7 linked regions of the Homo sapiens genome follow. The protein of the gene in region 5 purifies or fractionates together with the protein of the main gene of each other region. This does not show direct contact. Each region holds a gene or a part of one and is shown on either strand. Other genes may lie near its edges.

What was found.
Region 1: the proteins of GTPBP4 (region 5) and POP1 purify together in Homo sapiens (affinity purification with mass spectrometry; 2 studies listed by BioGRID). This does not show direct contact.
Region 2: the proteins of GTPBP4 (region 5) and NOP53 purify together in Homo sapiens (affinity purification with mass spectrometry; 2 studies listed by BioGRID and IntAct, with this or other methods). This does not show direct contact.
Region 3: the proteins of GTPBP4 (region 5) and WDR36 fractionate together in Homo sapiens (co-fractionation; one large-scale study listed by BioGRID). This does not show direct contact.
Region 4: the proteins of GTPBP4 (region 5) and RPF2 fractionate together in Homo sapiens (co-fractionation; one large-scale study listed by BioGRID). This does not show direct contact.
Region 6: the proteins of GTPBP4 (region 5) and GNL2 purify together in Homo sapiens (affinity purification with mass spectrometry; 2 studies listed by BioGRID and IntAct, with this or other methods). This does not show direct contact.
Region 7: the proteins of GTPBP4 (region 5) and STAU1 purify together in Homo sapiens (affinity purification with mass spectrometry; 2 studies listed by BioGRID). This does not show direct contact.

What each region holds. Positions count from the first base shown.
Region 1 is NC_000008.11:98,137,793-98,141,292, reverse strand, and holds part of POP1 (ribonucleases P/MRP protein subunit POP1), read right to left. Parts: intron 1,216-3,500; coding exon 1,104-1,215; intron 525-1,103; coding exon 405-524; intron 97-404; coding exon of another isoform or gene 89-96; exon of another isoform or gene 28-88; intron 1-27. UniProt on the Homo sapiens protein: Component of ribonuclease P, a ribonucleoprotein complex that generates mature tRNA molecules by cleaving their 5'-ends. Also a component of the MRP ribonuclease complex, which cleaves pre-rRNA sequences.
Region 2 is NC_000019.10:47,752,046-47,755,545, reverse strand, and holds part of NOP53 (ribosome biogenesis protein NOP53), read right to left. Parts: intron 3,035-3,500; coding exon 2,939-3,034; intron 1,020-2,938; coding exon 915-1,019; intron 838-914; coding exon 655-837; intron 199-654; coding exon 23-198; intron 1-22. UniProt on the Homo sapiens protein: Nucleolar protein which is involved in the integration of the 5S RNP into the ribosomal large subunit during ribosome biogenesis. In ribosome biogenesis, may also play a role in rRNA transcription.
Region 3 is NC_000005.10:111,098,848-111,102,347, forward strand, and holds part of WDR36 (WD repeat-containing protein 36), read left to right. Parts: intron 1-1,741; coding exon 1,742-1,874; intron 1,875-3,497; coding exon 3,498-3,500. UniProt on the Homo sapiens protein: Part of the small subunit (SSU) processome, first precursor of the small eukaryotic ribosomal subunit.
Region 4 is NC_000006.12:110,988,538-110,992,037, forward strand, and holds part of RPF2 (ribosome production factor 2 homolog), read left to right. Parts: intron 1-490; coding exon 491-528; intron 529-3,209; coding exon 3,210-3,249; intron 3,250-3,500. UniProt on the Homo sapiens protein: Involved in ribosomal large subunit assembly. May regulate the localization of the 5S RNP/5S ribonucleoprotein particle to the nucleolus.
Region 5 is NC_000010.11:1,005,434-1,008,933, reverse strand, and holds part of GTPBP4 (GTP-binding protein 4), read right to left. Parts: intron 3,117-3,500; coding exon 3,027-3,116; intron 1,917-3,026; coding exon 1,806-1,916; intron 1-1,805. UniProt on the Homo sapiens protein: Involved in the biogenesis of the 60S ribosomal subunit. Acts as a TP53 repressor, preventing TP53 stabilization and cell cycle arrest.
Region 6 is NC_000001.11:37,589,438-37,592,937, forward strand, and holds part of GNL2 (nucleolar GTP-binding protein 2), read right to left. Parts: intron 3,370-3,500; coding exon 3,275-3,369; intron 1,409-3,274; coding exon 1,269-1,408; intron 1-1,268. UniProt on the Homo sapiens protein: GTPase that associates with pre-60S ribosomal subunits in the nucleolus and is required for their nuclear export and maturation.
Region 7 is NC_000020.11:49,125,835-49,129,334, forward strand, and holds part of STAU1 (double-stranded RNA-binding protein Staufen homolog 1), read right to left. Parts: intron 1-3,500. UniProt on the Homo sapiens protein: Binds double-stranded RNA (regardless of the sequence) and tubulin.

The sequences.
Region 1 (3,500 bases), on a different chromosome or scaffold from region 5:
AGGATTCGAACCTGGATCATCTGTATGGTCAGACAGAGGCTTCCACTGAGCACAAGACCAGCTTCGGGTGCAGATCCCTTCCTCACAATTAAAATTCTGAAACGCCAGACATTTTCAGAGAACGTAGTTTGCAGAGAGACAGGTTTTACTAGATACTAAAAAAAGAGAACTCGGAAAATAAAATGAACATAAGTATCAGGCTACGTGTTTTACTGCTAAAAGACACTTCCACACCTACCATTTCCTTAGATCATAATCAGCTTGTAAAGTGGGCAGGTAAGGAGACTGCCCTAATTTTTTACAGATGAAGTTACTGGAGAGGTGTCAGAGAAAGAACTCTTCTTCTAATAAGACTGGACTGCTCGAAATAGTAAGGAAAACCTGGGGTGTTTTTGGAACTTTACCTTGGCATTTTTCTGGATTGGGCAAAGCTTTGGACTTCTTTTGGGGCAAATTTATTCGAGGATCCCCAACTGTCAGTCCCAGAATAGTACCTGCCGGAATTTCTGCTGGTGATGTTATTCCTTTAACAACAACAAAAAGAAGTTTACAGAAAGTCATTCATAATACATCTGTATTTGCTTGTATTTTTAAATCTTTCAGATTTCCTAATGAAACGTTTTTCTTGGACTAATTACTTAAAAACATGTATTCCCTCTCTTCCCATTGATACTTTTAGAGAATAAGTTAACATTCATAAAGAATGAGGTTTCTTGCAAAAAACATGAGGCCAACATAAAAAAAGGTTCTTTTATGAAATGAACACATATGCTTCTATCAGTGATAACTACAGCAGCTATGAGCAAAAATGCAGTTGTGTGCAGGTAAGCATAGAGTTTAGGTCAGTACCTGGTGTATGCATTTATCTCCACTATCAGAATGCCAGTTACTTAGAATATGAACATACCATTTGTTTGTTGTTTCATAACCAGGCATGAATATAGTGTTTATTCACTGAGTTCAGTCCCTCTCTTACTTGGTTCTCTTGCTGTGTCACAATAGCAGCAGGTTAAAAAGCAATACTACATGTTGGAGGCCCAACTGCAAAAGGCTCTTTTGGCCCCCTTCCCTCCCCAACACAACCCAGTCTTCCCTTTGTATACCTCCCAACAACTCGAAAATGGCTTCTTGTCTGCAATGAAGGGAAACGCTGTCAGGTTTCTTACAGGTTTCTATCCACCAGCGGTGAGGTGTCTCCTCTGTGTCCTCTCCCACCTGAAAAATAACAACTACTATTCACTGGACGAACAATGAATCCACCTTCATAATTTTGTCATGGTTGTGATATCAGCCCCCACTCTTTCTTCTTCTATGTGTGGAAATGTATGTGTTATGGGATGAACCAGGGAAGTTGCCACTATACTTAACATAGTAATTAATACCAGACTAACTACCCTTTGAATTAGCAGCAAGGATATAGTATTACACTTCTCTCAAGATTTCACATATGAAGAAAATCATCTATGGTTTTCATAGACTAACTCACTAAGATACTTCACACTCAAAGTCTCTCCAGAGCGCAGTACCAACAAAGGAGGCCTCGCTCCTCTCTCTTTTTTTTCTTGACACAGTCTCACTGTCACTGAGGCTGGAGTGCAGTGGCCTGTCATGGCTCACTGCAGCCTCAATCTCCCAGGCTCAAGTGATCCTCCCACTTCAGCCTTTCAAGTGGCTGGGAGATGGAACCACAGTCACATGCCACCATGCCCAGCTAATTTTTTTTAACTTATTTTTTGTAGATATATGGTCTCACTATGGTGCCCAGGCTGGTCTTGAATTCCTGGGCTGAAGCAATCAACCCACCTCAGCCTCCCAAAGAGCTGGGATTTCAGGTGTGAGCCACACGCCTGGTCCTCTTCCACTAGAGCTAACTTCATCATCTCCAATGTAAGCAATAAAATGTTCCTCACCAAAGGAAAATCAAACCAGTACCTTTTGAAGAACTTTCCAGATAAAAGATATACTACTACTACATTATTCCTAGAAATGTATATTTTTTCCACATGGAACTAGGAATTGAGGAAGATTTCAAAAAGTCCTTCAAGTATCACATGCATGGCAAGAAGGGAATCTATAGCCACAACTCATGCTGAAGTTCACTGAAGTAGGATGTGCACTTACGGATCCTAAAGAAGCAATCATGGCCGGGTGCAGTGGCTCATGCCTGTAATGCCAGCATTTTGGTAGGCCGAGGCAGGCGGGTCACTTGAGGCCAGGAGTTCGAGACCAGCCTGGCCAACATAGTGAAACCGCTACTAAAAATACAAAAAATATTAGCCGGGTGTGTTGGCTGGCACCTGTAATTCCAGCTACTCGGGAGGCTGAGGTATGAGAATTGCTTGAACCTGAGAGGTGGAGGTTGCAGTGAGCTGAGATTGTGCCACTGCACTCCAGCCTGGGTGACAGAGTGAGGCTCTGTCTCAAACAAAAAAAAAAAAAAAAAAAGCAATCATAACAAAGGTACCATTTACTCACAGAAACTCAGGTAGCACAGCTTAGTGGTTTACAGTACAGGCTCTGGAACCAAACTTCATTGGTTCAAATCTTTGCTCCACAACTTATTAGCTACTACGGGGCACCCTCTCTGTGCCAGACATTGTGCTAAGCACTGGGGAGAGAGTGAAAAACAGGACCAACTCTATCCTCACCCTTATGAAGCTCACAGTCTCATGAGAGACATGGACATTACATAAATACACAAATCTATATAAATAAATTGAGGGAATTTGCAAGATGCTCTCTCTGAAAACAACAGGAGGGATCTAGTTTAACTTGGGGGATCAGGAAAGGATGCTAGAGGGAAATGCTAGAGACTGAAATCTGAAGAATGAGGAAGGTTCAGCAAAGTAAAGAGTGGTGGAGGCAGAATGCTCAGTAGTTGGAAGGAAAAAACAGGTGCAAAGGCTCTAAGGGAGACAAGAACTGACATTCCAGAACCTGAAAGAAGGTCAGGGTGGCTGAAGTGTAGAAGGGTGAGGAGAAATGAGGCCTCAGAGGCAAGAAGGCACAAGATTACACGGGTCACATTGAGCACTTTGGATTTTATCTTAATTACAATGAGAAGCTATTCAAAAACTTTTCATCAGGAAGCAACAAGAGGGAATAAATTATCAAAAAATCACTCTGCCTCTTGTGTGGAGAATGGGCTGAAAAGGAGGAAGGATGGAGGAAACTTAAGGTTCCCTCTAGAATCCTTTCCTGATCCCCCAATTGTTCAGGCAAGAGACAACACTGGTTGAGAGTACAGCAGAAGCAGTGAAGATGGAGAAAAGTAGCTTTTGTATTTTAAAGCATCTTTCTTCTAAAAACTCAGAATCTGTTCAGCTCTATCATCGTATTTGACCACGTCAAGTCAGTGAGAGGCACAGGCATTGAAAAGTTAATTGCACTAAGACCAGAAAACGAACAGGATCTGAACCCAGGGTGCAGATTCCTAATCTAGTCTCTATGCTAGCCACTTGCCAATAGAGCTACTCAAATTTAATTTTTAGTTAATTAAA
Region 2 (3,500 bases), on a different chromosome or scaffold from region 5:
GAACCCCCGGCCTGGTTCTCACTTGAGCCGCCCCAGCCTTCGGGGCTTGTCAGCCTCAGCCTCCCGCCGCGCCTGCCGCCGCCTCTGCCGCCGCGCCAGCTCCGCCAGCCTCAGGGCCACCTGGGCCTTGATCCCGCGCAGCCGGAACAGCTCCTGGTGCCGGAGCCGGGCGGCCCGCAACGCGGCCTGCTGTACCCGCTGTGGAGACGGGGGAGGGTCAGGGCTCAGGCCGGTGCTGCCCACACAGGGAGACCTTCTCTCTACACAGGGAGCCTTCCCTGCACAAACCTGCCTGTCCCCGGAGGCCCTTCCTAACCCCGTCACATCAGCGGCCCCTCCAGTGCCTTCCCAGCAGCTGTTTGCTGAAGCCCCTTTTGTCATCCATCTCCCCTGGTCTGCGGTGCAGAAACCTCCCCCCACCCCGCCCCTCAAACAGAAGCGCCAGGGACCCTGTCCCACCCCAGCCCGAGCCCTGCCTGGAAGAGGCTGGGAAATGAGTCTCAGCTGTGAGGATCCCAAACAGCCCAAACCACAGGCCACATGCGGGGCTTGGGGTGTGCAGGCTGCCCGCAGCACCCAGGGCAGCCCATGGTGGGAGGAAGGAAGGAAGGGGGCGAGGCATCAGAGGCAGGCCCCGCTGGCCCAGGCGCTCACCAGCCTGTGCACAGCCTTCTCCCGCCGCCGCTGCTGCTCCGTCTTCTTCTCTGTGGTGGCCAGGCGGGCGGGCGTGGGACAGACCTCGGCATCCCCAGCCTCCGGCCCCTCGCCCTGGCCTGGCTCCCCCTCACCATCCGACTCCTCCAGCAGCCCCTCGCACAGCTCCTGGAATGTGGACTCCTGGGGAGGCGGGGTGCAGTGTCAGGGGTGGGTAGGAGGCCCGGGGAGGGGAGGGAGTGGGCAGGTGCGGGGCTCACCTGGGTGGCGGCCTGCTCCGTGGCGGGCAGGGCCAGCTGCCGCTCCAGCTTCTCCGCCTCCTTCTGCCGCTGCAACTCCACCTCGTGGGCCGCTGAGAGCAGGGTCTGAGGGGCGGGAGTGAGGATGGGTCCCTGAACCCCTCCTGGGACACTGAGACTAGACCCTCTTACCTCCCATCTGTCCCTCATCCAGTGCCCGTGGATCCCGCCCCGGCCCAGGCTTTCCTCCCCACACCCCGTCTACCAGCACACCCACCCTGCACAGAGCCAGAGGGCACCTCAAACCCTCGCCCTCACACCTGCTCTGCACGTCTGTGAAGGCAGTCTGACCTGCACGCTTCACATTTTTTTTTTGAGATAGAGTTTCTGTCTTGTTGCCCAGACTGGAGTGCAATGGTGTGATCTCAGCTCACCACAACCCCCGCCTCCTGGGTTCAAGCGATTCTCCTGCCTCAGCCTCCCGAGTAGCTACTATTACAGGCATGTGCCACCATACCCGGCTAATTCTGTAACTTTAGTAGAGATGGGGTTTCTCCATGTTGGTCAGGCTGGTCTTGAACTCCTGACCTCAGGTGGTCCACCTACCTCGGCCTCCCAAAGTGCTGGGATTACAGGTGTGAGCCACCATGCCCGGCCCACAGTTTCATCTATGTGAATTGGTCAGGGTGGGCTGGTCCCTGAGACAGGAAGCCTGGCAGCCCAAGACCACACGAGACAGGGAATTGCGGGGGTGATGGCTGACATGTGTGAGGTTTCCTTTACGGACAGTGAAAATGTTCTAAAATTGACTGCGGGGATGGTTACACAATGGTCACTAAAAGCCACTGAATCACATACTCTAACTAGGCTGACCGTATGGTTAAGTGAATTTTATCTCTACGAAGTAGTTCTGTACAAATCTAAAAGTGAATGTCTGATCTCCACGCCCCCTCCCACATCTGGTCCAGGAACAGATGGCAGTGAGCGGCACCCTCACGCTTTCAACCATGAGCACACTGTTGCTTTTTTCCGCAGACACTTTTCTCTACCAGATGAGGAAGCTGCCTCTGTTCCTGGCTAGCTATCTCCTTCTTATGAATGCTGAAAACGATTCGGACAAGCGGTCCTGCATCTACCGCAAACATCTCAGCATCTCTCCAGTCACGTGACCCCATGAGAAGGGCTGTTCCTTGAGGGAGGGTTGTGCTTGTTTTTTGAGTCTCGCTCTGTTACACAGGCTGCAGTGCCGTGGTGCGATCATAGCTCACTGCAGCCTGGACCTCCTGGGCTCAAGCAATCCTCCCACCTCAGCCTCCCAAGCAGTTGGGACCACAGATGCGTGCTGCCATGCCCTGCTAATTTTCTGTATTTAGTAGAGACAGGGTTTCACCATGTTGGTCAGGCTGGTCTCCAACTCCTGACCTCCAATGATCTGCCCGCCTCAGCCTCCCAAAGTGCTGGGATTACAGGTGTGAGGCACCGCACCCGGCCAAGGGAGGGGTTTTTGTCCCCTTTGTCCACAGCATCTGTGCTCAACAGATGCCCGCTAAATGCACAGTGGCTCCAGCTAGACTTTCCCATCGCTGAGCTAGCCTCGCCCATATATAACTGTCACTTGGCTGCCAGTGTGCCACCGTGTCACCACAGCCTTTTTCATCTCTGCCCCACAGGCTTCCTGGAAGGCGCCACGGTCTCTCTCAACTCTGTGCCTTTGCAGTGCTGTTCCCACCACCTGGAAAACCCACTCCCCTCCTCCCACTGCAAACCCCTCCCTCAGCCTCTGCCTCGGCTCAGGCGACCCCTCCTCCCGGGAGCCCTTCCTGACCCCCCAGGCTGGGCCAGGTGCCCCGTCTGGGCTCCCAGCCCCAACCACTCTGCCCATCACTGTCTGGGAACAGGTCTCTTGCACTGGACCGTGAGCCCCGTTGCGGACAGGCCCAGGGCTGTCTGGGTCATTGGAGTTCCCAGCACAGGGAGGAAGCTAGTGAAGGCCTGACCAAGAGGCAGAGCCCACTGAGGAGGGAGGCCTGGACGGGGCAGTGTACCTGGTGGTCTTCAAAGGATGGATTGTAGGAAGCTCCGGCAGGCGCCACCTCCACGGCGGGTGCCTGGGACGGCTTGGTGTGCAGGCGTGCTGGCCGCTGTGGAGAAAAGGCCGAGGCAGGGTAAGGCCGTGCGTTGGGGCTGCGGGTGACCCAGGACACAGCCATGGGGCAGATGCTCCAGGCCTTGCCAGTGGTTGGGTGTGGGAAGAGCTCAAGGGGCATTCAGGTGACTCCAGAGCAAGACTCCATCTCAGAAAAAGGATAGCAGCCTATCCTCTGCTACCCACGAGGCTGAGCCCCGGAGATTGTAAGCACCTGGGCTCTAACACTTGGGGTCCAGCAGCTCAAGAAGGAGGCTGCAAATCCAAACTCAAACCCGTGACACTTCTGCCACTTGCCAGCACGGGCTCCACCTTCTCATGTGCTACCTCTTTACATTCTCCCCACCGACCCATGATCTAAGTACAATTTCATCTGTATTTTATTTTATTTTTTTTTTTGAGACAGAGTTTCGCTCTTGTTGCCCAGGCTGGAGTGCAGTGGCATGATCTCGGCTCACTGC
Region 3 (3,500 bases), on a different chromosome or scaffold from region 5:
TAACTCATTTATTTGCTTTATCTTAGGGTAGTATGTGTTTAATTAAAATTTAAAATCTATGTAAACATCTATGCCAGAGATTTTGCCTGTAAATAGTAAGAAATTAAAAAAATCAAAAATCTTTAACGTGTAAGAAAAAAAGTTCTAAGTAAGAAAGAGATAAACAACTTTAGCAAGTTAACTACTTATAAACTGTTTAATGTGCTTACCTCAACTAATGTATTTTCCATTGCAGTTCTCCAACTTTAATGATTTGTTGTATTGTTTTCCCTGTGGAGTGAATATTGATGTATTTTCATACCTGAGTAATTCTTGGTTTGTATTTTCACCTTTTAGTAAAGGAGACTGTAATAGTAAACTTGATCTTGTAATCTGAAGGAAAATATACATCCATTTCCTAGGGATATGAGTCAGTTTCTTTCAACTGTGATAGCTTAGACAGTGGCTATGTTTATGGGATTATGTATCTTTAAACATGAAGAATTTATCCCTAGGATATCTACACCTTTCCTCAATAAAATACTGGGTTCATCATGAATTGAATCTTTTAAGTTCTTTAATCTGGTTACATTTTTAGCTTATATTGCCTCTTGGTTTTTTTTTGTTTTTTTTTTTGTTTTTTTTTTTTTTTTTTTTTCAGTAAATATCCTGAAGATTGCATTTCTGGGAATTATTCCAGGTTCTTGTTTCAGATTAGTAACCCTTTTCTTGTTTTGTTTTTGCTCAAGTAGAGGGAGGGAACAGAATTCCAAAAGTATTCCCTGTGCAGATAGAAGTTAAAAGGGCTTTTATTAGGTTACAGGATCTGGTTCTTACATTCCAGCAGACTCTCTTGAACCAGTATATTCAGGGAGCCATTTGTAGTGACTGACGAATAAAGGCAAGGATCTCTTAAAATAGCATTCAAAGTAAAGTTTATATAATTTTCACCTATACCTGTACATCCTAAACTGTGGTACCCATACCCTGGGATTGTACAGTAGTGTGCCAGATAGTATGTGAACCTAAAGATTAAGTGAAATGTACCTTCTTTGATACACAAATTTACTGGAAAATAGAGTGGAACATTGTTTTAATCATGGAGGAACTGTAAAGTGAAAAGCAGAATTCAAACATAGAAATTTTGAATGTAACCAAAGATTTCAGAGAATTTTTTTATCTTGGAGCAAGTGACCACTGGTGATGCCACCCCCCACTCCACAGGGTTATACGTTTTTTTTTTCTCCTTTATTAGAGATTATTTTGTGGAAATGTGTGAGAAGTACTCTTATTTCACTGAGGTGTGTCTTTTATTTTTGGCATTTTTTGAGTGGCCCATCAAACTTTCCAGATAATTGGCTCTTCGTTCCCTGAAAGAGCTAAGTATAAGCACTTCACTTGGAATATTCACTCCTGTCTGTTGATCAAATTACAGAAACATGAATGCTAATCCTTAGGATCTTTTTTTTTTAACTTTATTATCCTTTTCTGTAAAGTAATTCAAAAGTGAATGAAACTTTTAATAGTATTTTTATTAGAAGTTACAGAAAATTTTTGACAGTCTAAATTAAATTACATTTACAAGTTGCCTCTCATTTATTTTATTTCTCAAGGAATGTTTATAGATTAGTATCTAAGTCTGTGGTTTATTTTAACATATAAATCTTTGATGTGATAGACTTACTTTAAGTGATAAATATATGGTTACATAAAACATTTTAAACTATTTTATAAAAAATATTTATAACTTTCACTTTTGTAGAAGAATACCTGCAGTTGACTTTTGATAAATCAGTATTTAAAATTTCTGCAATTTTGCATCCAAGTACCTACTTGAATAAAATACTTCTGGGCAGTGAACAAGGAAGCCTGCAGTTGTGGAATGTAAAATCCAAGTAAGTATTTTAGTTAGAAAATAATATAGCTGTCACCTTATCCTCATCTACTACTTCCTAATGTATACTTAAGTCTCATTTCTCCCTGCCCTTGTATATTTATTTGGAGGGTTGTCTATAAATAACAGTTGGTCCCCTGTATCAGAGGAGTCAATTAACCTGGGATCAAAAATATTCAAGGAAAAATAAATAAATAATAATACAACAATAAAACATCACATTTTAAAGTAGTACAGTATAACAGCTATTTACATAGTATTTACATTATATTAGGTCTTATAAGTAAGCTAGAGATTATTTAAAGTATATGCATAAATGTGTGAAAGTTATATGCAAATACCACACCATTTTATGTAAGGGACTTGAGCATCTGTGAATTTTGGTATCAGCAGAGAAGTTGGGGAAGTCCTGGAACCAATCCCCCACAGGTAGTGAGATATAACTATATGTTTGCTTTTGGAGTTGTTGCTGGTGGCATCACATATGTGAAAGGTGGCATGTGATCCTGACACATGTTAGACAGCTTCATAAATGCTCACTGAAAAGTATGTACTAATGACCTAATAACTGTAAAGAATTGCTATAGAGAAGGCTCTAATAAAGGTCTATGAGATCCATCAGAAAATAATAATAATGAGATTATTACTAGGGAGCTTCTGATTTTCCATACATGAAGATTTTCTATACATGAAGAAGGTAAAAGATGGAAAGGCAAATCAATAATTTAGTGCTAGCATTTAGAAATGATTTTTAGGGTTAAAAGTACTTCCATAATCTCCCATAGATATGGCAAATATCTAATATTGATGTAGCTAGAGGGCTGGATACATGATTTTGAATACTTCTATCCATTATGTAAACATTTATCAGTAGAAAAAGGTGGCAGCTCACACTTCTTTGTATAGCATTTTAAAAAGCAAACAAAAATATTTGACCATCCAAATTGTTTTTTTCCAAAGTCCTTTTAAATTCAAAAGGGAAAATAAGATTATTAAAGGTTTGATGTTTTAAATCAGTGTTTCATTACAATTTAACAAATACCATTGACTGCCTACTTTGTGCTAGGTTCAGCAATAGTGACTGAAATACTGTCTTTGCCCATTTACAGAATTTAATACATGATTTAATATTTTAATGATAATTATAATGATTTCAGATACCTCTGTTTGCTCCATGGATGTGTTATTTATCATTCATGACTTGCTTCTGAAATTGAGAGCAGCATTACTGTTGTCATATAACAGTCATATAACATGCAAATAATATTTTTATTAAAATATAAGTTATTCCCTTTCATGATGTTTCTATAAAGATACTGCAGTCCTAAATTTTTTTTACTGTAGCCTGTAATATAACATGATTTTTACACACGTATTTTTTTTTCCACTTAGGACATTTAATTTCTTAATGAGGTGGCATAGCATAGTAGTTAGTTTGAGACCTAGAATTTGTCTGGACAATATTACTAACCTTGTGACATTAGCTTAATCATCAGAATAGTGTGTGGAAGAGTAAGAACTTAATAAATATCACCTATTATTATTTCACTTTTTAATGTGTAGCTGATATTGTTTTCCTCCAAAAAAAAAAAAATACAGCTTTCAACTATTTTTCTTCTTGTAGTAA
Region 4 (3,500 bases), on a different chromosome or scaffold from region 5:
TGATCCTCCCGCCTTAGCCTCCCAAGTAGCTGGGACTGCAGGCATGCACCACTATGCCTGGCTAATTTTTGCAGTTTTTTGTAGAGACAGGGTTTTGCCATGTTGCCCAGGCTGGTCTCGAACTCCTGGGCTTGAGTGATCTGCCTTGTCCTCCCAAAGTGTTGGGATTACAGGCGTGAGCCACTGCACCTGGAATTGTTTCCCTAGAGAGAGACTGGACTAAGTCGAGTTTAAAGAAATGAAGGAAATTGTTTAAGTTGGATAGACTATTGACAGGGCATAGAAACTTTTAAATAGGAAAGTCTAGTCCAAGAATATTAAGCTTACATTTCAAGTTACTGTAAGTGATGAAAAGGGAGCCAGGCAGAAGCCCTCAGAATAAGATTGAGGCCCCAGAGCAATCTTGGAGAGTGACTGTTATGATGCTTTATTTTTATTTCTGCTTTTCAGAATGTGTTTTGTTTTGAAAGCTATAAATTTTGTTTTACAGTATGCACTGAAAAAACCATACGGTGTACTATATAAAAAGTAAGTCATGATTTCTTTTACTGTATTTTAAATGATTTTGTTTCATTATAAAAGTAACCACTTTATGGAAGATTTGGAAAACAAAAACTTTTTAAAAAGATATTAAAATTCCTTACAGTTATTAATATTTTAATTTCTTTCTTTTGGTCTGTTTTTTTCATTTGTATTGAATGTCCTTGCATAGTTGTAACCATAGCATATATATTTTATTTTGAAATACAGATTTACAGAAAAGTGCAAAAATAATGCAGAATTCCCATATACCCTTCACCTGGCTTCCCCTAATGTTACATCTTGCATAACCGTAATGCAATGATCAAAACTAATAAATTAACACCGATTCACTCATGTTAATCAAATGACAGACATATTTGATTAGCACCAGTTTTTCTTTTTTCCTTCTTTTGAGACGGAGTCCTGTTGTCGCCCGGCTGGAGTGCAGTGGCATGATCTCTGCTCACTACAACCTCTAACTCTGGGTTCAAGCAATTCTTCTGCCTTGGCCTCCCATGTAGCTAGGATTATAGGCACGTGCCACCACGCCTGGCTAATTTTTGTGTGGTTTTTTTTTTTTTTTTTGAGACGGAGTCTAGCTTTGTTGCCAGGCTGGAGTGCAGTGGCATGATCTCGCCTCGCTGCAACCTCTGACTCCCTGGTTCAAGTGATTCTCCTGCCTCAGCCTCCTGAGTTGGGATTACAGGCATGCACCTCCATGCCCAGCTCATTTTTGTATTTTTAATAGAGACAGGGTTTCACCATGTTGGCCAGGCTGGTCTTAAACTTCTGACTTTAGGTGATCTGCGCGCCTTGGCCTCCCGAAGTGATGGGATTACAGGCGTGAGCCACCCCGCCCGGCCCAGTTTCTTTTTTCTTTCTTTTCTTTTTTTTTTAAGACGGAGTTTCACTCTTGTTGCCCAGGCTGGAGTGCAGTGGCATGATCTAAGGTCACTGCAACACCTGCCTCCTGGGTTCAAGCAATTCTCTTGCCTCAACCTCCCGAGTAACTGGGATTACGGGCATGCGCCACCACGCCCGGCTAATTTTGTATTTTTAGTAGAGACGGGATTTCTCCATGTTGGTCAGGCTGGTCTCGAACTCCCGACCTCAGGTGACCTGCCCACCTCGGCCTCCCAAAGTGCTGGGATTACAGGCGTGAGCCACCGTGCCCGGCCCTAGTTTTCCTTTTAATACTCTTTTTCTCTTCAGGATCCCATGTTGCATTTAGTTTTCATGCCTCCTTAGTCTTCTCCAATTTGTGACAGTTCCTTAGTCTTTCATTGTCTTTGATGACCTTGACATTTTTGACAAGTACTTGTCAGTTATTTTGTAAATTATCCCTCAATTTGGGTTTAAATTTTCTCATGAATTGATTGAGGTTATGCATGTTTGTCAAGAACACTACAAAAATGTTGTGCTTTCCTCATATATTCTTCTGGATTATAATCCAGTGTTCTTAATTTTGTTGCTTAAATTGTTCTGTTTGGCAATTGGGAACCCCCCCCCCCCCCACCTTTTCTTTTGTTTGTTTTTTTAGTATGAGACGGAGTCTCACTCTTTCACCCAGCCTGGAGTGCAGTGGTGCGACCTCAGCTCACCACAACCTCTGGCTCCTGGGTTCAAGCGATTCTCCTGCCTCAGCCTCCTGAGTAGCTGGGATTACAGGTGCCCAGCTAATTTTTGTATTTTTAGTAGAGACAGGGTTTCACCATGTTGGCCAGGCTGGTCTCAGACTCCTGACCTCAGGTGATCCACCAGCTTCAGCCTCTCAAAGTGCTGGGATTACAGGCGTGAGCCACTGCTCCCAGCTGGGAACTCTTTTACGTTGGTTCCTATGACCTTTCAACATGCCTCCTGTTTTTGAGCACTTCCTTACTTTCTAACATCACAAAATTATCTGGGTTCATCTTGTCTTTTTCCTTACCACAGCCCTGGAATAAGCTACAGTCATCCCTCAGTATCTGTGGGCGATGGGTTCCAGAAACCTCCCCTTATTAAAATCTGGGTATGCTCGTCTCTTACATAAAATGGCCTAGTATTTGCATATAACCCACACACTTCCTCCTGTATCCTTTTTTTAAAAAATGCTTCCCATAAAAGTAAGTTGCATATACTTTAAATCATCTCTCGATTACTTATAATATCTAATATAATGTAAATGCTATGTAAATAGTTATAATGCTGTATTTTCTGGTTTATCCTGCTTTTTATTGTTCCTTTTTCTTTTTATTTCTTAACTTTTTTTTTAGAGACGGGGTCTCACTGTTACCCAGGCTGGAGTGCAGTGGCACGATCATATTTCACTGTTGTAAGCCACTGTGCTCGGCGCCCCCTGCTTTTTTTTTTTTTTTTAACACACTTTCTTTGTCTATTGAATACTGTCAATCCGTGGTTGGTCAAATCAATCCATGGATGCAGAAGGATGCAGAATCCATATGTACAGAGGACTACTTATTTTCCACGAGCCTATAAACTCCATGAAAGCAAGCATCTTGTTTAATGTAGTAGTATAGTATCACTAGCTCCTAGAATGGTAGCCTGGCATATAACAGGCACTGAATAAATATTTGAATGAATGAATATCCTTTCAATTGTTTTATCATCTGAATATAAAATTACCTTAATATATTAATTGTATATACTTATTTAGATTATTAAAATTGTCACTTTTTTGATATTCTTAGGAAAAATATTACAAGACCTTTTGAGGATCAGACATCACTGGTAAGTATAATAATCTTTATGATTTAAGAAAGCATATAAGTAGTAATTATTCAGACTAATTCATTTGTACTCCAAATTTGTGATTTTTTTAAACATTAGAAGTCATCCTGTGTGAGGGAATTTTGTGTAAAATGGAGAGGAAATACTTTAAAAAATATCTATAGAGCTTTCATTTCACTATGGCTGGGAAATGTGTTTTTCATTGCCTGCAAATATATTGATAAAATTTTTAAAACTTGGCCGGGCGCGGT
Region 5 (3,500 bases):
TTATGTGAAATGCCTGCTGAATGAGAAACTTACAAAGCCGAAAAAGTAGAAACAAATTCCCTACGTGCAAGGGGAACAGAAAACCATACCCAGACCAATGAACAACCAACAGATTATTTTAGGGGAGAGGAGTGGGTTCATACCGAGACCAATTAACAACCAACAGATTATTTTAGGGGAGAGGAGTGGGTTCAGGGTCACTTTGAGCACAGAGACCAGGAGGACTCCACAAAGTGATTCCAAAGTTTATCCAGGAAAAACAGAAATCATGATTATCATGAAAAATTATGGAAGAAGAAAGTGGTAAGAAATAACACTGGATCAACAGATGAAAGAAATTTAGACATAAACTCAAGTGCATATAAGAATTCAATGGAAACATAAAATTTCCAATACTCAGGTCAGAAATGCCGACCACTTGAAACGGAGTGCAACCTCCACCCTCACAACATAACCAACTCAAGACACGGTGAAGACTATCCAAAAAAGCTAATTTTTAATGCTAGTATAAAAGATAATTTTTTTTTTTTGACAGAGTCTCACTCTTGTCACCCAGGCTGGAGTACAGTGGAGTGATCTCGGCTCACTGCAACCTCCACCTCCCAGGTTCAAACGATTCTCCCGCCTCAGCCTCCTGAATAGGTAGAATTATAGGTGCGCGCCCGACTAATTTTCGTAGTTTTAGCAGAGATGGGGTTTCACCATGATTGCCAGGCTGGTCTCAGACTCTTGACCTCAGGTGATCCACCCGCCTCGGCCTCCCAGAGTGCTGGGATTACAGACGTGAGCCACTGCACCCAGCAAGAAAAGATACTTTTAAAATGACTTTGGAATGAATGGTAAGCCTTTCTATGTACAATGCAAACCTGAACACCCAGAAAAAAAAATTAATATATGTTAATAGTTCAAAAATGTACAGCACATTTGAAGTTAAAAAGGCAAGTGACAAAAAGAGAAAAAAATTTGCAATGTATCTGACAAGAATCCAACCTTTGTAATACAAAAGTAACAAATCAGCGAGAAAAAGATAAACAGCCTAAAGAACTTTGAAAAGGCCAATAAGCAGACAAACATGCTCAACCGCACCCAGCATTACATAAACACACAACAATAAAATCATCTTTACACAAGACTGACAGTCAGTGCCCGACCACGCCGAGGACACAAGGAAAGACAGAGGGAAGGACACAGCCTCCAGCGTCAGTGCAGCACACACCAGGAAGGCGTCTGTGGGACAGGAACGTTGTCAACACCACATGGTGAAGTGCAGACACATTTGCAGTAAAACATGAAGACACAGCGTAACGATGTGTGCCCATTCACAATGGACAAAACAATGAAAATTTATTTTATTTATTTTTTATAGAGACAGGGTCCCACTATGTTGCCCAGGCTGGTCAAGAACTCCTGGGCTTAAGCAATCTTCCCACCTTGGCCTCCCAAAGTGCTGGGATTACAGGCGTGAGCTACTTCCCCCAGCCAAAAAAATGAAAATTTAAAGAATGAAACAGATTTCCATCTGTGTTTAAAGAACTTTTTAGAAACTAATCTTCTATATCAGAAACATTTCTGGAAGGATAAACTAACAGTGACCACGTCATGCAGTGGGAAACGGGTGCCATGTGGCGTTCTGCACTTTCTTCACCTTCTCGATCCTTTATGTAAGCAAGAAGGTGAAACTGAGGCCCACCCACAATATCCACCTGCGAGTGTGTGAAGCTGGATGGGAGGCTTCTGGAAAAGGCACGCAGACAGCACCTGCTGACAGTACTGTGAGCCCACGGCTGTCCCAGGGGCCGTCTTACCTTATCGTCCCTCCTGGTTGGGATAGCCAGGTGCAGTCTATTCAGCACCTCATTCACTTTATTTCCCTTCATTTTGGTTTCCACTCGATGAGCCAAAAGCCTATCGCAAGCCTAATAACGTAAAAAAGAAGGCACAGTCACAAACGCATCCTCCAGCAGCCTCCAGCTACAGGTTCCAGGAGGAGCCACAGATCAGAGCCACTGAGCCTTTTCCCTCAAGGTAACTAACACGTAGGGGGCCACATTCTCTGAGGCCCAGGTGGAAGCGGCCCTGAGGGAAGGTGCATCTCCAGTGCCTGGGCCTCTCTCCCACCACAGTGACCCTCTGCACAGACGGTGCCCTCCAACTGCCCTTCACGAACCGGAGGCAATGTTGCCCCTCAGGACTCTAACCGAGCAACAAATTCCTGAGTGCGACCATGGCATCAGGAGTGCCATCTTTTTAAATCCTGAGTGCGACCATGGCATCAGGAGTGCCATCTTTTTTTTTGAGATGGTATCTCGCTCTTGCTGCCCAGGCTGTAGTGCAGTGGCATGATCTCAGCTCACAGCAACCTCCGCCTCCCAGGTTCAAACGATTCTCCTGCCTCAGCCTCCCGAGTAGCTGGGATTACAAGCATGCGCTACCACGCCCGGCTAATTTTGTATTTTTAGGAGAGACGGAGTTTCACCACGTTGGCCAGGCTGGTCTCGAACTCCCGACCTTGGGTGATCTACCCGCCTCAGCCTCCCAAAGTGCTGGGATTACAGGCGTGAGCCACTGCGCCTGGCCAGAAATGTCCTTTTATTTGAGATAAAAACAACATGAAATACAAAGTAATTAGGACAGCATGTGAAATCCAGCAGCGGACTGCCTCCTGCAAAAGCTGTTCTGCTTTTCAGACTTTTCTCCCTTCTACTTCGAACAGGTTCCATAAAAATAATTTTCACTGTACTTGCTACCGAAATATTAAAAGGCCAGAGACAACAGCTGCTTTAGGGTAAAGTTGTTTGGGGTGAGAAGAGCAAAGCATCCCCTCACAACCCACTGTCCACGGGGGGCAAAGTGGGTCTTAGAAGGGTCTGTCTTCACGCCCCACTCTCGCACGCCACCCGCCTCGCTACTGCGAGGGCTCCAAGTGTTAACAATGTCTAGAAAGAAAACTATTTTCTCCCCACAACTGACTTGAATCAAACAAGAGACAGTAAAAAGACTAATACCTGACTTAAGGCAGCACTGACCTCTGTTTTAACTTTAATAACACCTTCCTCAGTCAGGGTGCTGGTCTCTATTACAGGGAATCCTTCAGACTGCAAATCTGTAAATATTTTCTGGGAATGCAAAGAAAAAACGAGAGATGTATTATTCATTTCCAGTTCCCTATGGAACAAACTGTACAGTTCTGCAAATGGAGGCTGCAAATGTGAACATCTGTGGTTGTTTCAAAGTCTTAAAAAACAGACATATCCTAAAAACAGTTATTTTCTTCATATTCTTCTATGATCAAGAAAACACAAATGACATCAAAAAGATGGCCGACTAGTAGCCCCTCACATCTGTCCCCCACAACAAAGGCAATCAGAATAACGAACAACTACATGTTAATAACTGAGGGGGAGCTCCAGAGGGCATCACAGGAGTAACAGGCACCCTGGGGAGCAGAAAAACGCAAGACGATGAAATACAGCCCAAAGAAAACACCAGGGGCCAGGCGC
Region 6 (3,500 bases), on a different chromosome or scaffold from region 5:
GGGACTACAGGTGCCCGCCACCACGCCCGGCTAATTTTTTTTTGTATTTTTAGTAGAGACGGGATTTCACGTGTTAGCCAGGATGGTCTCAATCTCCTGACCTTGTGATCCACCCGCCTTGGCTTCCCAAAGTGCTGGGATTCAGGCGTGAGCCACCGCGCCCAGCCTGAACTATTTAACCCACGTATGCATGTCAATGTTTTTCTCCCCTCCTCATACTGGAACTGAAGCTTACGTACTGGCTACATTTCTGGGAATTTATTATTCAATGCAAGTAAAAATAAGCAGACAAACAACAGATTCTTTCTTTGTTCTGTGTGAAACTCATTCCACTCAACCCAGATTGAATCCTTACTGCACTTCAAATTTTAGCAATTGACAACCAATGTGACCAGCACCCCTTCCTTCAGCTGAGAAAAAATCTCAAGGATCTCACAAAAGCTGAACGTACGCAACACCAAAGTTCTACCAACTCAATCCTAATTCTACGCTGTCCCAAAGTTTGATGGAATTACCACTTAAAACAAGTTTGCCTACCAAAATAAATAATATTACTAATAGCTGTTATCAATTTAGCTCTTATTAGGTGGTGTGCTATGTGCTCACTATGGGCCAAGTGCTTTACAGATGCTTCATCTGTAGCCAATAACCCAAGGAGGTCGGTTATCTATACTTTCTGTTTTTTTTAGACGGAGTTTCGCTCCTGTTGCCCAGGCTGGAGTGCAATGGCACGATCTTGGCTCACTGCAATCTCTGCCTCCCAGGTTCAAGCGATTCTCCTGCCTCAGCCTCTCCTGAGTAGCTGAGATTACAGGTATGCACCACCACGCCTGGCTAATTTTGTATTTTTAGTAGAGACAGGGTTTCTTCTTGTTGGTCAGGTTGGTCTCAAACTCCTGACCTCAGGTGATCCGCCTGCCTGAGCCTCCCAAGTGCTGGGATTACAGGCGTGAGCCACTGTGTCCGACCTATCTATACTTTCAAGGCAAAGAAGTTAAAGTTCATGGAGAAACCCAACTAAGGGCACAGGAAGGGATAGAGCAAGGATTAAAATTCAGGTCTCAACTCCAAAACCTGTGCTTTGATCCACTACACTACTGCACCTCATACTAAACATGAAAAGGTGAAAAGAGAGGTCTTAGAAAGTTCATCATTGCTACATTAAAGTCACTATTTTCTAAGGAAAAACAAAAGACAAATATGTTAGAGAGGGATCTGCATGGAGTTTGCCCAGGAAATTCCATCACCAGGGATATCCTACATCTTACATGAGGCCGGATTCGATCATGGAGAAGAGACATTGGTAACTTGCTTTGCTTCATGACAACTTTGTATGGATCCTTCATAACTGTATCCATTTCCTCTTGAAATTTTTGTAATGATGACTGCTTAATCACACGTGTGTTTCCTGTTTTACAAATAAAGAATGTTGCCACTTAGTTAATATTTGCGCATCCATCTTCCACTGACACGGTGAAAGGCAAGATTTTAAATTACCCTCACTTACCCAAGCACCTGATCCATCCATCCCTTGGAGCTGTTTTCAAACTTAAAAGAGGAAAAAACCAAAAAACTGCCTCTCCCGCACTTGCACACTATGAACTATTCCACAAATCCAGACCCACAAAGGGTTTCAATAGTTTTCCAAGTCCAGTTTCCTAACTAAATGAAACTGAGAAATAAATAGCGTGGAATGGAACTGAGATCTGTCAAATGTCCTACTACCTGCTAGATCTAGCAGAGAAACCTGGAGCCAATCACAGCTGATCAGTCAGTATAGACAGAGAATCTTGAAACACTGAAATTTGAGTCATAGTTAGCCACTTTTAGGGTTATGAGGATTCAAAGGGACTATTAACCAATGAGTCCATGCAAGGGAACAAGATAGAGCCCTGCACCACCACCTGGAAAACATCTTGTGAGGGAGACCCTGAAAAGCATTCAATTAAACAGCATGCTGCGGCATAAATGCAAAACAGCAAGGTGGTAATGACGGTAGCAAGTAATGCTTATATTATACTCACTATTTGCTAGGCGCTATTCTAAGCACTTTATATATATTTACTCTTTTTTTTTTTTTTTTTTTGAGATGGAGTCTCACTCTGTCACCCAGGCTGGAGTGCAGTGGCACAATCTCAGCTCACTGCAACCTCTGCCTCCTGGGCTCAAGGGATTCTCCTGCCCCAGCCTCCCAAGTAGCTGGGATTACAGGTGCCCACCACAACACCTGGCTAATTTTTGTATATTTAGTAGAGATGGGGGTTTCACTGTGTTGGCCAGGCTGGTCTCGAATGCCTGACCTCAAGTGATTCACCAGCCTTGGCCTCCCAAAGTGCTGGGATTACAGGCGTGAGCCACTGCGCCCTGCCTGTATTTACTCATTTGATTACCATGACAGTCTTATGAGATAGGTTTCATCTTATTCTCATGTTAGGGATGAGAAAACTGATGAACAGACAGACTTAATAACTTGCCCACTGGCACATAAATGACAGAACTAGAATTCAAACCCAGGCAGTCTAATCGAGTCACAGTACCCAGCAGCCATGCTAAATGCTTCTCTGCAGAGTTTTGACACCTTTCTGTGTTGCAGTTCTTAGGAAGTATCCCACTGAAAGTATAAGAGACTCAAAGATAGCTGCCACCTGCCCCCAAGGACAGAGGTCAAACACCAAGCAAACACTGGGGTCTGATCATCTAAAGTGCCCATACATTTACCAGTGGCTAAGGGCAAAGTTAAGAGCCCAGACTGAAATGAGACAGGGAGTTTTCCAAGGAAGAAGCTGTGATCACCCTGAGACTGAAGATACTCTATTCACTGTTGGACAGTTCAACAGTGAGACCCTTTAATTGTCACCCAAGTTCAAATAAAAACCCCATTAAGAAGTATTTCAGAGGAACTTCGGGCTAATGCACTTACCCTGAAGGATATATGCACAAAACCTACAAGGCCACCTCTCCAACAGTATCTCTTTAGGAAAGCAGAAAAGATTAAGATGAGCATTCTAAGGTCTGTGAATGCTAGTCATTAAGGATGGTCTTATCTGCTTAAGAGGGTTCAATTACAATTACTAATGGTGAGCGCTCTTCAAAAAGAAGTTATTTATTAAATTGACCACCACTACTTTTCCCAGTAATTCTTCTTATCCCTTTCTCAGATAATCCTTGCCGGTTTCACTCACCAAAAACTCCTGCTGTTTAGACATTTAAACATCCTAGCCGTTTCCACTCAGCATATATTTTGTAGAGCAAAGTAACAGGGGATAATACTCACCAAACCATTTAATATTTGGCTCTACTCTTGCCACTGTGCCAGAAGCCACCGTTGATTGATATTGCAGGGGTTTAATTATTTTACCACGACTGTTCCTAAATTGAGGAAAGAACAGATATTGGTTGACAACAGAAAAATGGCAACAGCGAAGTTTGATTTACAGAATATATTTTCCATCAAAAGGACTTCTTACTTTGGTTTTAAATGATCATGAAATACCAATTCC
Region 7 (3,500 bases), on a different chromosome or scaffold from region 5:
TCCGTCTCAAAAAGCAAGCAATGAAATTAGTTACCTACAACAGGTGTGAGGGATTAGGGTAGACAGACGGGATGAGACGGGAATGATAGTTTTGACTTCTGGAAGCATTTACTGTTTTACATATTAAAGAAATAAAACTAAGTCAACAAAGATGGGGAAAGAATCTAAAATTAAACATGAACAGAAAGTTAGCTGCATATTAAAGTGATTACAATCTCCAAATGGACCAAAGACCTACACAGAGGCGCTAACATGCACAACTCTCAGAAGCAAAAACAGGCGAGTCTTCATGACTTTGGGTTTGGCAATTGGTTTTTAAGATATGAAACTAAAAGCACAATCAACAAGAGGGAAAAAAAAAAGTCACACTTAATCAAACTTTAAAACTTTTGTGTATCATGGACATTATCAAGAAAGTGATTACAATAACACAGATAGAAAATCAGGCTGGGCAGGGTGGCTCATGCCTGTAATCCCAACGCTCTGGGAGGCCAGGGTGGGAGGATCACTTGAGCTCAGAAGTTCAAGACCAGCCTGGCCAATACAGCAAGACCTTGACTCTACAAAAATAAAAACAAAATTAGCCAGGTGTGGTAGTGTGCCCCTGTATGTAGTCCTAGCTATGTGGGAGGCTAAAACAGGAGGATCACTTAAGCCCAGGAGATCAAGGCTACAGGGAGCTATGATCACACAACTGCACCCCAGCCTGGGCAACAGAGCAAAACCTCGTCTCAAAAAGCAAAAAAAAAAAAACAAAAAAAAAACAAAAAAACTTAAAAATCTAACCGATATTAGCCAAGACACTCAAAAAGAAAAATAGAAGACTTACACTACCAGATTTTAAAACTTCCTATAAAGTCACAACAACTAGGATATGGTTTTGTGTAAGGATAAATAGATCAACAGAACAGCACGAAAAAGACCTGCACATATAAGGTCACTCGATTTTTGGCAAACACACCAAAACAAATTAAAAATCTCTTAAAAAAATAGTACCAGAGCAACTAACTAGGTATCTGCATGGAGCGGGGTGGGGGGAAGAAAAAAAAATCAAACCATGATCTCTAACTCATACCACAACAAAAATTAGACCTAGGATCACTTAAATGTGATCTAAACTAAAATTACAAAGACTTTATAACAGGAGAAAGCCTCAAGACTGTAAGGCTGGCAAAGAGTTGAACACAAAAGATATCCACCATAAAGAAAAAAGAAATTCCTCAAAATTAAAAACCACTGGCCGGGCGCGGTGGCTCACGCCTGTAATCCCAGCACTTTGGGAGGCCGAGGTGGGCAGATCACGAGGTCAGGAGTTCGAGATCAGCCTGGCCAACATAGTGAAACCCCGTCTCTACTAAAAATATAAAAAATTAGCTGGGCGTGGTGGCGGGCACCTGTAATCCCAGCTACTTAGGAGGCTGAGACAGGAGAATTGCTTGAACCCAGGAGACGGAGGTTGCAGTGAGCTGAGATGGCACCACTGCACTCCAGCCTGGACAACAAGAGCGAAACACCATCTCAAAAATAAATAAATGAATAAAATAAAAAATAAACTGCTCATCAAAAGACATTTAAAAAGTAAAAAAGGGGGCCAGGTGCAGTGGCTCACGCCTGTAATACCAACACTGTGGTAGGCCGAGGCGGGTGGATCACCTGAGGTCAGGAGTTTGAGACCAGCTTGGCCAACAGGGTGAAACCCTGTCTCTACTAAAAATACAAAAATTAGCTGAGTGTGGTGACACATGACTGTAATCCCAGTTACTTAAGAGGCTAACACAGGAGAAATGCTTGAACCCCAGAGGCGGAGGTTGCAGTGAGCTGAGATCGCGCCATTGCATTCCAGCCCGGATGACAGAGCAAGACTTTGTCTAAAAAACAAAAAAAACTAAAAAAGGGGCCAGGCACATTGGCTCACTCTTGTAATCCCAGCACTTTGAGAAGGCCAAGGCGGGTGGATGGCTTCAGTCCAGGAGTTTGAGACCAGCCTGGGCAACATGGCAAAACCCCGTCTCTACAAAAAAAATACAAAAATTGGCTGGGCTCGGTGGCTCACGCCTGTAATCCCAGCACTTTGGGAGGCCGAGGCAGGCGGATCACCTGAGGCCAGGAGTTTGAGACCAGCCTGACCAACATGGAGAAACCCCATCTCTACTAAAAATACAAAATTACCTGGGCGTGGTAGCGCATGCCCATAATCCCAGCTACTCGGGAGGCTGAGGCAGGAGAATCGCTTGAACCCAGGAGGCAGAGGTTGCGGTAAGCTGAGATCACGCCATTGCACTCCAGCCTGGGCAACAAGAGCGAAACTCTGTCTCAGAGGAAAAAAAAAAAATACAAAAATTAGCCCAGTGTGTGGTGGCGTGTGCCTGTAGCCCCAGCTACTTGGGAGGCTGAGACAGCAGGATCACTTGAGCTCAGGAGGTCGAGGTTGCAGTGAGGTGAGATCATGCCACTGCACTACAGCCCGGGTACCAAGTGAGTTCTTTTCTCTAAAATCAAATAAAATAAACTTGTTATTTCAAAATATACATATTTCCTAGCTCTATCTCCTAACCGAGAGCCATGGCTCTCCAGCAGGAACAAGCATGCTAGCACCCTGTCCTGTCTCTACACACCACTCCCAATTAGAAGGAACCGGATCTTCTTGGAGGAATGGCCAAGACCATTTCTATTAGAAATTTATGTTTCCACTGGGGCTAAAGCTAGAGCAGGGGAAGTTCAAAGTGAGGCTAAAACATTTTGTTGTATCAGAAAGCATGGAAGTTCTCAAAATGTGAAGAGGGGAGGTGCAAAGGTTATTTAATAAAGGACTGTCTCAGCCAGGCATGGTGGCTCAAGCCTGTAATCCCAGCCTGGGCGACAAGAGCAAAACTCTGTCTCAAAAAATAAAGGACTGTCTCTTCAACAAACAGTGCAGGCACAATTAGACATCCAAATCCAAAAAAAAAAAAAAAAAAAAGACAAAAACATCCCTTATGTCACAGTATATATGAAAACTAACTCGAAATGAATTATAAACCTAAATGTAAGAGCTAAAACTAAAATTTCTAAGGAAAATGACTTTAGGTTAGCCAAATGTATCTCAGCATACACAAAAATTATTAACTATAAAAAATTTAACAAACTACACCTCACCAAAATTCAATACTTCTGCTTTTTGAAAGTCACTTAAAATCAAACGACAAGCCACAGACTTAAGAGAAAATATCTGCAAAATACTTATCTGAGAAAAAACTTGAATTCAGAATATATATAGAACCTCCAAAACTCAATAATAAAAAGACACTCAAAAAAACTGGCAAGATATAAACCTATATTTCATCAAAGAAAATAGTAAAATAAAAACACGAAAAGAAGCTCAGTATTGCTAGTCTTCATGGAGATATATAAATTAAAACCACAACAAGATACTACTGACTACCTGCTAGAATGACTTTAAAAAAAAATTTTTTTTTTTTTTTTTTTTTTTTTGAGACGGAGTCTCACTCTGTCACCCAGGG